Linked DNA regions of Homo sapiens: region 2 is linked to region 1. The links come from fine-mapping of genetic effects on gene expression. A gene starts in region 1. The other region holds a variant in brackets. All regions are shown on one strand. Distances are between the middles of the regions. Region 1 holds the start of SIRPG (signal regulatory protein gamma). Region 2 holds the start of SIRPG-AS1 (SIRPG antisense RNA 1).

Evidence for each region.
Region 2: its variant is fine-mapped to the expression of SIRPG in whole blood (TOPMed, PIP above 0.99).

What each region holds. Positions count from the first base shown.
Region 1 is chr20:1,654,826-1,660,210 of GRCh38, forward strand. It overlaps SIRPG (signal regulatory protein gamma), which reads right to left and starts at 2,954. Exons shown (of 6, transcript NM_018556.4): 1 at 2,817-2,954. The coding sequence starts at 2,889.
Region 2 is chr20:1,632,878-1,638,262 of GRCh38, forward strand. SIRPG (signal regulatory protein gamma) reads right to left here. Exons shown (of 6, transcript NM_018556.4): 3 at 3,311-3,628; 4 at 2,390-2,722. It overlaps SIRPG-AS1 (SIRPG antisense RNA 1), which reads left to right and starts at 631. Exons shown (of 3, transcript NR_110090.1): 1 at 631-843; 2 at 4,329-4,473. RefSeq lists an enhancer at 2,213-3,038. The variant C/T (reference allele first, on the strand shown) is at 3,062.

The DNA of each region.
Region 1 (5,385 bases):
ACAACTCAACCATAAGAAAACAACCCTATTAAAATATGGGCCAAAGATCCGAATAGACATTTCTCAGAAGAAGACATTAAGATGGCAAGTCAGCGTATAAAAAAAAATCCAACCTTACTATTCATGAGATAAATGCAAATTAAAACCGCAGTGGGCTATCATCTCACACCTTTAAGAATGGCTATTATCAAAAAGAGGAAATTTAGTATTGGAGAAGATGTGGAGAAAAGGGAACCCTTGCAGACAGTTGGTGGGAATATAAATTAGTAGAGCCATTAGTGAAAACAGTATGCAGGTTCCTCAAGAAATTAAAAATATAACTCTTATCTGATCTGGTAATCTCACTACTGGCATATATCCAAAGGAAATGACATCAGCATGTCACACATATATCTGCACTCCCATGTCCATTGCAGCATTATTTACAAAAGCCAAGATATGGAATCAACCTAGGTGTCTATCAGCAGATAAATGGAGAAAGAAAATGTAGCATATATGCACAATGAAATTCTAATCAGCCTTACAAAAAGGGAAACCCTGTCATTTGCAACAACATGGATGAACCTGGAGGACATTCTGCTAAGTGAAATAAGCCAGGCACGGAAAGACAAACACTGTATGATTTCACGTATGAAGAATCTAAAAAGTTGAGCTCATAGAAGTAGAAAGTAGAATGGTGTTTATCGGGGGCTAGAGAGGGGGTGTAGTTGGGGAGATATTAGTCAAAGGATACAAAATTTCAATTTAAATAAGAGAAATAAGTTCAAGATATCTATTGTACAATGTGGTGTTTATACTTAATAATATGAATTGTATTCTTGAAAACTGCTGAGAGAGCAGAGTTTACGAGTTCTCACAATAAAAAATGATAAATATGTAAGGTAATGCATATGTTTATTAGTTCAAATTAGTCATTCCACAATGTATGCATATTTCTTAATATGTTGTACATAAGTATACATACTTTTGTCAAATAAAAATAAAATAAAATATTTATTTTGTTAAAAATTTCACTGAAAATAGAAAGAGAACCAATGATTAAAAATGAAATCTCATCTGTGCATGTACATGTACATGCATAGGCACATGTGCATATATATGTGTATATAATGTGTATATATACACATTCACAAATATATATAAAAGTTTGGCTTATCATGTTAGTATATAAGGTTGTTTTGTGCATTAATTACAATTATGACAAATTTAAAAATCTCAGTAAAATATTTGGCACATAGAAACCATCCAACACATTTTTAACATTTTGGGAAAACATACATACACTAGTGTTTTACCTCTGATTGTTTCTGACTGGTGTGATGGGTGATTATTAATCTAATGTTTGCTTGCCTGCATTTTCTAATATTTCTACACATAGCATAACATGGTTAAAAGGGTGATAAACTCTGGAACTGGTCAACCTGGACTTGATCCCAACTGCTCCATGGACTGAAGTAGGGGACAATGAACAGGTTCCTGCCTCTGCCTCACTCCCCATTTGCAAATAGAGCACAAGAGTTATAGCTTCCACACAGGGATGCTGTGAGGATTAGTTGACTTAATACACACAAAATGCTAAGAAGTGCATCTGCCTTACAGGAAGAGAGCAATTGCTGAACTATTACTGCTGTCATTTGGGTACAGTGTATGTGTAAAAAAAATAATTTGAAAAGTGAGACCTTGCCCTCTAAGACCTGTGAGATGACATCACAGCAGGGCCCAGTGGGCAACTGAGAGGCTATTGTGCCCAGCCCTGTGACCGGGGGTCAGCTGCATGGTCTGAAAAAGGGGTGAAGACAGGCAGCCTGTCTGGGAGCTGTGAACAGGGCTCTCTCAGGTGGCACCAGGAAAGACCTCCCAATCCTGTCTGCCTGGGGGAAGGGAAAATAAATTCTCCAGAGGAAAGTCAAGATGACCAAGGGAGATGGTGGTGCCTGTTATGGGCTGAATGTGCCCCCAAAACGAATGGGTTGAAGCCCCAATCCCCAGCGCCTTAGAATTTGACCATATTTGGAGACAAGGTCTTTAACCCATTTATGCCCGAGGTTGCAATTTTTTTTTAATTTGAAAAATCAGACCTTGGCGATGCCCTTGAGCAGTAGGATATAAATAACTCCCGCAAGCTTAGTGATCCAATAACGGAGCACTAGGCATAAATGGGTGAAGCAATTTAGTTAAATGAGGTCACTGGCGGGGAGCCTTAATCCAATATGGCTGATGTTCTCATAAGAGAAAATGAGAATACAGACACACACAGAGGAAGACCATGTGTCAAGACACATGGAGGAGATGGCCTTCTACAAGCCAAGGAGAAAGACCTCAGTAGAAACTAACCCTGCTGGCATCTTGATTTTGCAATTCAGCCTCCAGAACTGAAAGAAAGAAAGTAAATGTCTATTGTTTTAGTTACTGAGTCTGTGGTGCTTTGTTGTGGAAGCCCTAAGAAAGGAATATAGGACGCTGTAAGCATGAAATGTGGAACTTCTTAAAGAGGAGGAGGGCACACAAAAATGGGTAGGAGGACTCAAGACAGGTAAGGATTTAATAATGATTCTTCTGTGTTTGTCAAATAAAATATTATAAAAATGTAACTAATTGTGATGGTGGCAGAAGCCTCACAAGGTTTGATGCCTCTGGTAGCCAGCTGCAGATCCACAGAGAAAGTGCTCAGCTCCCTGATCTTCTGCTCTTGGACAATGTCCAGTCCTTGACCTTCCTTGGCAGTGCTTGTGCTTATCTGAAATTGCTGCAAGTCCAGGGGCAAGGCTAGGTCCAGGAAGCAGGGAGAAAGGGTTCTAGCCCAATGCAATGCTCACCTGTAAGTCCCAGCAGTAGAGTCAGAAGCAGGAAAGGACCAGGAGGATGGGGCCAGGAGGCTGGGACAGGCATTTTGGAGACCTCAGAAGCCTGCTCTGTTCAAACGTCTGTTCTGGGGAGATGTCAGGCCCTGCTCTGAAGACAGAAGACAAGCCCTGCCTCCCTCAATTCAAGAGGAAGTGGCTATGATGGAATGCAACAGTAACCTGCTTCTAGATTGTGACTTACAAATCAGGCACAGTAGGCAGCTACAAAGCAAGGAGTTAATCGTGCTCCATTTTCAGGATAATCAGACAGGGTTAGCAGAAATAATGCTTCCTGCCTGCCTGGGACCTGTGCTCCCTCCTCGTGTCCCCAAACCCATTTTCAGGTCTTCTTGGTGATTTGCCATTTGAGGCTTTTAAGTCAAGAAAGATCTGTTGTTAGGTATTGTTTTCTAAAGTCTTTATTTCAAGACCCTAGGATGTGGTTGGCTTGTGGTCTTGTTCTGCACCAGCCTCAACCAAATGCCACTCCGCTGGACGTAGGAGAAGAGTTCACAGGACCTGCTCAACACTGGAGAGGAACCAGATCTTCTCCTGAAATGATTTTCTATTCCAAATTGCTATAATTGGCAACACTTAGCCCAAATTCAGTCTCTTGTGGACCTTAGCACTTTCATGTGCCTGCACCCAGCAGAAGGAATTATTTCTTGACTCCTTCCAGGAGAGAAACTGGGTTTGAGGTAATAAGCAACTGCTTTGTGGAGTGAGGTGGGGATTGTGGGTTATGGAAAGGGGATAGGGTTATCATGAGGGAAGATTATGGTGGGCAGGTTCCTGGGGCCGTCGCATCAATTTCAATACCCTTTCTTCTACACACAGAGCACCTATTTCATTCATCACTGAGTTCGGATGGGAAATGAGGAAAGAGGAAAAATCCATGCTCCTGCCAAGAGTGTGTGCCAAGGAGTTGGGGAAGTCGCTGGGCCCTCCTATGCTCAGTTTCAATCTCCTAAACTGGGAATAGTAAGTCTTTTTGTGCAGTGTTTTAGTGACGATTAAAGAGGTAATGAGCATATCATGCCTGAAACCCAGTAGGTCATTATTGATACTCACGGTGCCAGGTGAAGTGCGGGAACTCAAATGTTGCTTTTGAATGGATCCCTCCTGCATGCTGAGTTGCCCACCAGTGGCTTTCTCCCAGCAACCCAGGCCTCCTGAGACCCAGCTTATATAGTGTATTTGGACTCTCGCTGCCACCCTGAAATCAGTTTCTCCCTCTGGATTCTCTAAATCCCGCTCCTTGTTCAACCATAGATTAATTCCTCCTCTTACAATTTCCAGCTGTGTGATTTTCAAAAAGACACTACTTCTCTGAGCCTTGGTTTGATTGTATGTAAATAAATGTTAGAATATGCACCTTGTAGAGCTATGGTAGGAATAATATAAGCCATACTGAATGCTTGACTCATAATTAATTATAAGCAAAAAAACATGGCTATAATTATTTTCTGTGTACAGGAAGAGTCCACTGGTTCTCTGCCACCGTTGTGCCTTAGAAAAGCCACCTTGTTAAAAGAAATGATTTCTCTTCCAGCATCTATGACTAAGAAAGACCTGTCCAGAATCCTTCATCTCACATGTGGGTTTTAGGTTCTTAATCTGTCATGAATAATTGTCAAATCAAATTGTAAATGTTATCATGTTTTAATTGAAAGTCCTGTTTTAATGTGGCAGATGTACACAGGGTGAAATCTTCCCCTCCTTCTCCACACCCACAGTAGTGAAAACACAAAATGAAAAGAATATATGAATCAATGTCTAATTACACTTGAATACAAGCAATTGGCTTCTATATGACATGAAGGAATTATAACAGCTATCATTTATTGAGAGTTTCCTGTGCTCCAGATATGGTGCCAAGCATTTTTCTATTGGTAATGTCATTAAATCATTGCTCTGACCCCATGAGGTAAGCTCAACCATTAACCTCCTTTCACAGGTGAGAAAACCCGAGGCACATGGAGAGTAATGAATTTGCTCAAGATCACCCGGCTTTTAGAACTGGAACATAGGCTGCCACACTCCACAGCCTTCACTTTTAATGGTTGTACTATGATACCTCTTGCAGGAAGGGAGAGACATCCCTCAGGAAGAAAGCAGAGAAGAAGCTATAGCCTCAATTAGGAGCAGCCCTCATAGTGAGGCTGGGGCAGGTGCCATGCTCCACGAGGCCCTGACAACCCATGATCACATGGGGAATTATTCCTGGGAAGACGGAAGTGCAAGCAAGAATCACCAAAGATTTGAGGAACAGCACTGCAGCTAACAAATTCAAGAAAAACAATAACTCAAAAACAAATAGCAATCAAAAGAACTTCACACCTGAGCAAATATGAAAAAACAAAATGTGTAAAGTTCTTTAAAGTTAGTATACTTAATGATCTTATAAGGAAAACAAAAGAGAAGTAAATTCATAAACCAACATCAGGCATGTAATAATATGAAACAGAAATAGGCGGGCATGAGGTAACAACAACCATCTTGAAAAAATACCAAAACACAGACTTTGGAAATGAAAACATAA
Region 2 (5,385 bases), 22 kb before region 1:
AGACAGGAATTAATAAAAAGAAGAGTGCAAAAAATGAATAAACTGGAAACACAAAAACAATTTAAAAACTCACGGAAACAAAGTGGTCCTTTGAAAAGACCAATAAAATGGAAAAAAACTATAGCAAGGCTGATGAAGAAGAAAACAGAAATGGCATATTTTAGATATGAGGTTGAAACAGGGGATATCGCCATAACCCTTCAGACACCAAAAAGATAATAAGGAGATATTATGAACAACTCTACACACAAAAATATGACAACTTAGATAAAATGGACACAAAATTCTTCAAAAGGCACGAGTTACCGGAACTCACCCAATATGAAATGAATAATATGAGTAACCCTAAACTACTGAGGAAATTGAATTTATACTTTTAAAACACCCCCAAAAATTCTTGAGGCCCAAGTGTTTCAAAGAAAAATACTGCAAAGCATTTAAATATGAATTAAAACCAAATTTAGTGCACAGAAAGATAGTCATAAAAGAAATTTGAGGAAAATTTGAATGTATACTCCATTTTAGATGATATAAGGGAATTGTTTTAATAATTTTATGAAATTTAGTGATTAAAAATTTGAAATTGTATTAACTGTAATAATGATACTGGTTTTGTTATGCTGTCTTTAGTCATAAGATCACCCAACTATGGATTCCATTTGGAACTGCGTGTACATGCATGACTGAGTTAGCTGTGGACATGATCACACGCCTTCCATACATCTCTGATTATAGAAGATATTTTTTGCCCTCCATTTCCTATATTTACTCTTCCAGCAGACAGGGACATGGAAAAATCCGTGACCTAGCACTGACCCAGCAGATAAGACTAACCACCATAAGGTATGTGGGAGGAACCTGGGCCTTTGAAAAGTCTCCTGGAGTTGAGACTCCTCCTGGTATTACACAAGAGGGAAGTAAGACATATTTTGGTCATACGGAGTGGAACACAGGCCAACTTCAGGTCCATGGGACAATGCCCAGCAGAAGAGGACTGTTTCTCTAACTAGCACAAATTTGCATTTTAGGCTGATACTGACCTTGTCCTCAGGGACCCAGATTTACTTTAATTAGTTTGAACCAATAACCCGATCTAAAGGCAAGAGGTCTTCAACAACATCCCCCATGACTTCCCAAGTCCTAGTTTCCCCTTCTTTAAAACTCCAGACTTACTGGGTGGTTGAAGCAAAAACAGAGATCATGGATGAATGGAAATTTGCACTTAGTAAATTTGCAGAGGGGTTTGTGATTATTGTTGCTCAAATATCACAATCAGGACACAGAAGAGGTCCGTTCTGTGACCATTCATGGTCACCTGCAGGCCTGGTACAGTTTTTTTTTTTTTTTTTGACAGAGTCTCGCTCTGTCGCCCAGGCTGGAGTGCAGTGGCATGATCTCGGCTCACTGCAAGCTCCGCCTCCTGGGTTCACACCATTCTCCTGCCTCAGCCTCCCGAGTAGCTGGGACTACAGGCGCCCGCCACCACGCCCGGCTCATTTTTTTGTATTTTTAGTAGAGATGGGGTTTCACCGTGTTAACCAGGATGGTCTCGATCTCCTGACCTCGTGATCCGCCCGCCTCGGCCTCCCAAAGTGCTGGGATTACAGGCGTGAGCCGCCAGGCCTGGTACAGTTTTAAACTACATTTGTCTTTCTGAAACATACACAGCAGATGTCAGGGTGTACTGGGATGAGGTCATAAATGAGGATGGAAAAGTTTGGATGAAACAGAAACAAAGCAGAGGTTAGAAAAAGTAGGGAGCACAAGGGTGGGCTGATGAGAAACGGGCACAACAACTCTCAAGGAATAAGGGAAGGCAAAGGACTCTATGAGAAGATGGTTCCCCCTGCCTGCCTCTTTGCTCCTTAAATATATATTTATGTACGCCAGGCGCGGTGGCTCACGCCTGTAATCCCAGCACTTTGGGAGGCTGAGGCGGGCGGATCACGAGGTCAGGAGATCGAGACCATCCTGGCTAACACGGTGAAACCCCATCTCTACTAAAAATACAAAAAATTAGTCGGGCGTGGTGGCGGGCGCCTGTAGTCCCAGCTACTCGGGAGGCTGAGACAGGAGAATGGCGTGAACCCGGGAGGCGGAGCTTGCGGTGAGCAGAGATCGCGCCACTGCACTCCAGTCTGGGCGACAGAGCCAGACTCCGTCTCAAAAAAAAAAAAAATTAAACATATATTTATGTCAAAAGTTCTATTAACTTGTGCATCAAATTCTTACTAGTCATGACTCTTCGCATGTGGGATTTGGGGGGATGGAGCTGACATTAAAATTTTACTTTGTATTTATAGACTTCTAGCTTATTTTACAGCAAGTGTGGATATTACTTTTAAAATGAGAGAAAAAGACAAAATTTAAAAATTTTGAGTAACCTCACCAGGGGTAGCATCTGAGCTCTGGTCCTTCTGGTGGACTGTGACCTCTAGGGCAAGGCGTTTGCTGACCGCCAGCTGCCCATCATGCTTCACCTGGCAGGTGAGGACCACATCATCCCTTTGGTCAGATATGTTCACCAGGAACCAGCTTGTCCAGTTGTAGGTACCATCCTTGTTCTCTGTAAGGGTCGAGGCTGTTTCTCTCTGGCACACGTTTCCATTCTCCGACCAGGTCAGCTGTAGGCTCTGGGGGTAGAACTTCCTCACCTGGCAGGTGACGTTTACCTGGTTCCCCACCCTCATGGGCTGTTGAGTAACCTCCAAGGTGGGTGGAACTGAAACAGCACAGGGTAGAAGCTCTGATCTTCTGGCACAGACAGATCACAGGGAGGGCTCCATAACTTAACTCCCACTACCACGGTGAGGGCATCACCAGGACAGTGCTAGGCAGGCAGCAGATGCTAAGACATTGAGGGCGCTCTTTGCATATGAATGAAATTACCAAGCACAGTGCCTGGTGCACAGTAGGTGCTCAAGGACTGGTAGCTCCTACTAGGCTAAGAATGAGTGAAATCTACAAGCACAACCCCTGGCATGCAGTTGGAATGTAAGAACTGTAGCAAAATCAGTGAAATCGCCGAGCACATAGGGACTTGGCTCATAGTAGGTACTCA[C/T]TAATAGTAGTTGTTCTTGGTGAGATAAATGAAACTCTCTAGCGCAGAGCTTGGCACGTGATTGCTGGTCCCCTGACCGCTGCCAATAAAATGATAGTAAGTGACCAGCACACCTAGGTGCATGGCGGGCGGGCAGTATAGTCAGGGATTAGATTACAGGCCATTCAACCTCTGGAGCAACAGCCTGGGGAGAGGGGAGTGGGCTTGACAGCCAGGTGTGGGCTTGGGCTGGGTGTGAGGGTCCTCTACCTCGGATGGCCTCAGACAAGTTGGCAGTCCCACGAAGAGGGTCCCCCTGCAAGGTGACATGGGCCACCTCGCAGATGACCTGAGAGCGAACGTCCCAGGGGTCCAGTACCACCCTGGCTGTGCTGCGGATGCTGTAGGCCACACTCTGTCCTGTGGGGTCCACGTTGGTCTGGAAGTCTGAGAGCTCATTCCCATTTTTGAACCATTTCAGGGTGATGTCTCTGGGAGAGAAGCCATGGGACTCACAGGTGAAACTCACTGTATGCTCAGGTGTGGTCCTCGCCGCAGGGCCCAATACCACGGGGGCAGAGGGTTTGGCTACAAAAGGGGCATCGATAAACAGGAGACATGACTGAGATGACAATCACTAACGATGAGTGTGTGACACTGTTAAGAACCTTCAGATACATTAATTTTAATCCTTCTAATAATGTGGAGAGGATGGTGTTCTTATTCTCATTTTACAGAGCAGGATGCAAAGGTTGGAAGAGGTGACGACCAGCCCCAGGTCAGACAGTGTAGGGAAAGGTCCCAGAGGGAAGTCCAGGTCTGAGTTCAAAGTCCTCCTCTCCACATAGGGTGACTTCCACCAATCTGGGCACAGGAACAAAGTTACTGATTGTTCTCCCTCTGTGTATTAACTGGTGCTAGCCTGTTTCCCCAGGAGAGCTCACCAACCTCAGAGAGGGTGTTTACAGAAGCCAAAGTAGGGAACAATGGCAAAGTGGCGCCACCATGAGACCTGCAACCAGGCTGCTCAGCCCATGAGAGGGGTGGCCTGGAACATGCAGCCCCTCATCTGCAAAGTGGGACAGCAGCATTTTCCCTTCCCAGGGGTGCAACAAGGATTAAATGGGGCCATGGAAGAAGTTTTGCTTTGGATCAAAGTCAGAAGATGCTTCATAAAAATAAACACAGATCTGTCTTTAATCCAGACTTGACATATACCTAGAGCTCTCTCTCTTTGTGTATTTATGAATTTATTCCATATTTTTCATTCTTTTCACAAATATTCCAGTACAGTTTTTGAAAGAAAATGAAGTAGTTAAGGCTAAAGCTTTAACATGGAGTCAAGCGTTTGTAAGAGCATTGCACTCACACCTGCTAAAGGTCAAGCCACAGGATGTTGCTGTAGACCTGGATAACAATGGACTGAAGTCAAGGTACATGGGATTTTGATTTCTCTCATCCTGGAGTGTCCTAATTAAGTAACCAATTCATACGAGTTTGCAGTTTAGCATTTCTGCCAGGCAATGAACTGTTTTCAAAAACAACATTTTGTGAAAGTCCCCAGTACAAAACTTTTCCTGCATTGCCCTATGGGACACTGTTCAGGACTACCATGACTCAGGGTTCCCAAATTGCAACTCTTTATTTCCCAGATAAATGCTATTTCCTTTGGCCTTCCTATCAATCATTATTTTTTTTAGTTAGCAGGTCTAATCTGTGCCAAGTCCCAAATTTGAAAAGAGGGAAGGTTTCTTGGAATCTAGGTCTTCAGTTGGGCCAGGTTGGGTCCAAAAACAATGATCACTGAGTACTAAGAAAGCCAAAGGTGGGTGATTTCTTCATCGTTAATTCATTACAAGAGACAAAGATCTAGGCCACCCCAACAGGCAGAAATCTATCCTGGGTCCTGAAAGCACACAAACTGGAGAATCAGAAAAATGAGGGTAGTTTCTCCCTGTAGATGAGTCCTAAACGTGTCTCCAAATTGCTAATTATTACCCTGCACCTCCTATAGCAGTCATCAGGAAACACATATTAGGCATACTTGCATTTGTAAATATTAACTTGCTCCCTACCACATGCAAACATTTTATGGGCACAGTAAGAAGGGTGTCACTTGAAGAAGTCAAGTCATCAAGACACCAGCAGCATTGGGCATCCCTAGAGGGCTGAGAGGCTGTAACCAGTTGCCATTTATTGAGGGCTTCTTGGGAGCCTGATGCTGGCTGCTCCCTCTGTACCTCTCAGCTCTTTAATCCTCCCTTTATTGCCTTGAGGGGGTCCTCGTGTGAGTCCCTTATAGGACCAGGGTCTGAGGGGACCCCAGCTAGCAAAGGGCCAAAAGT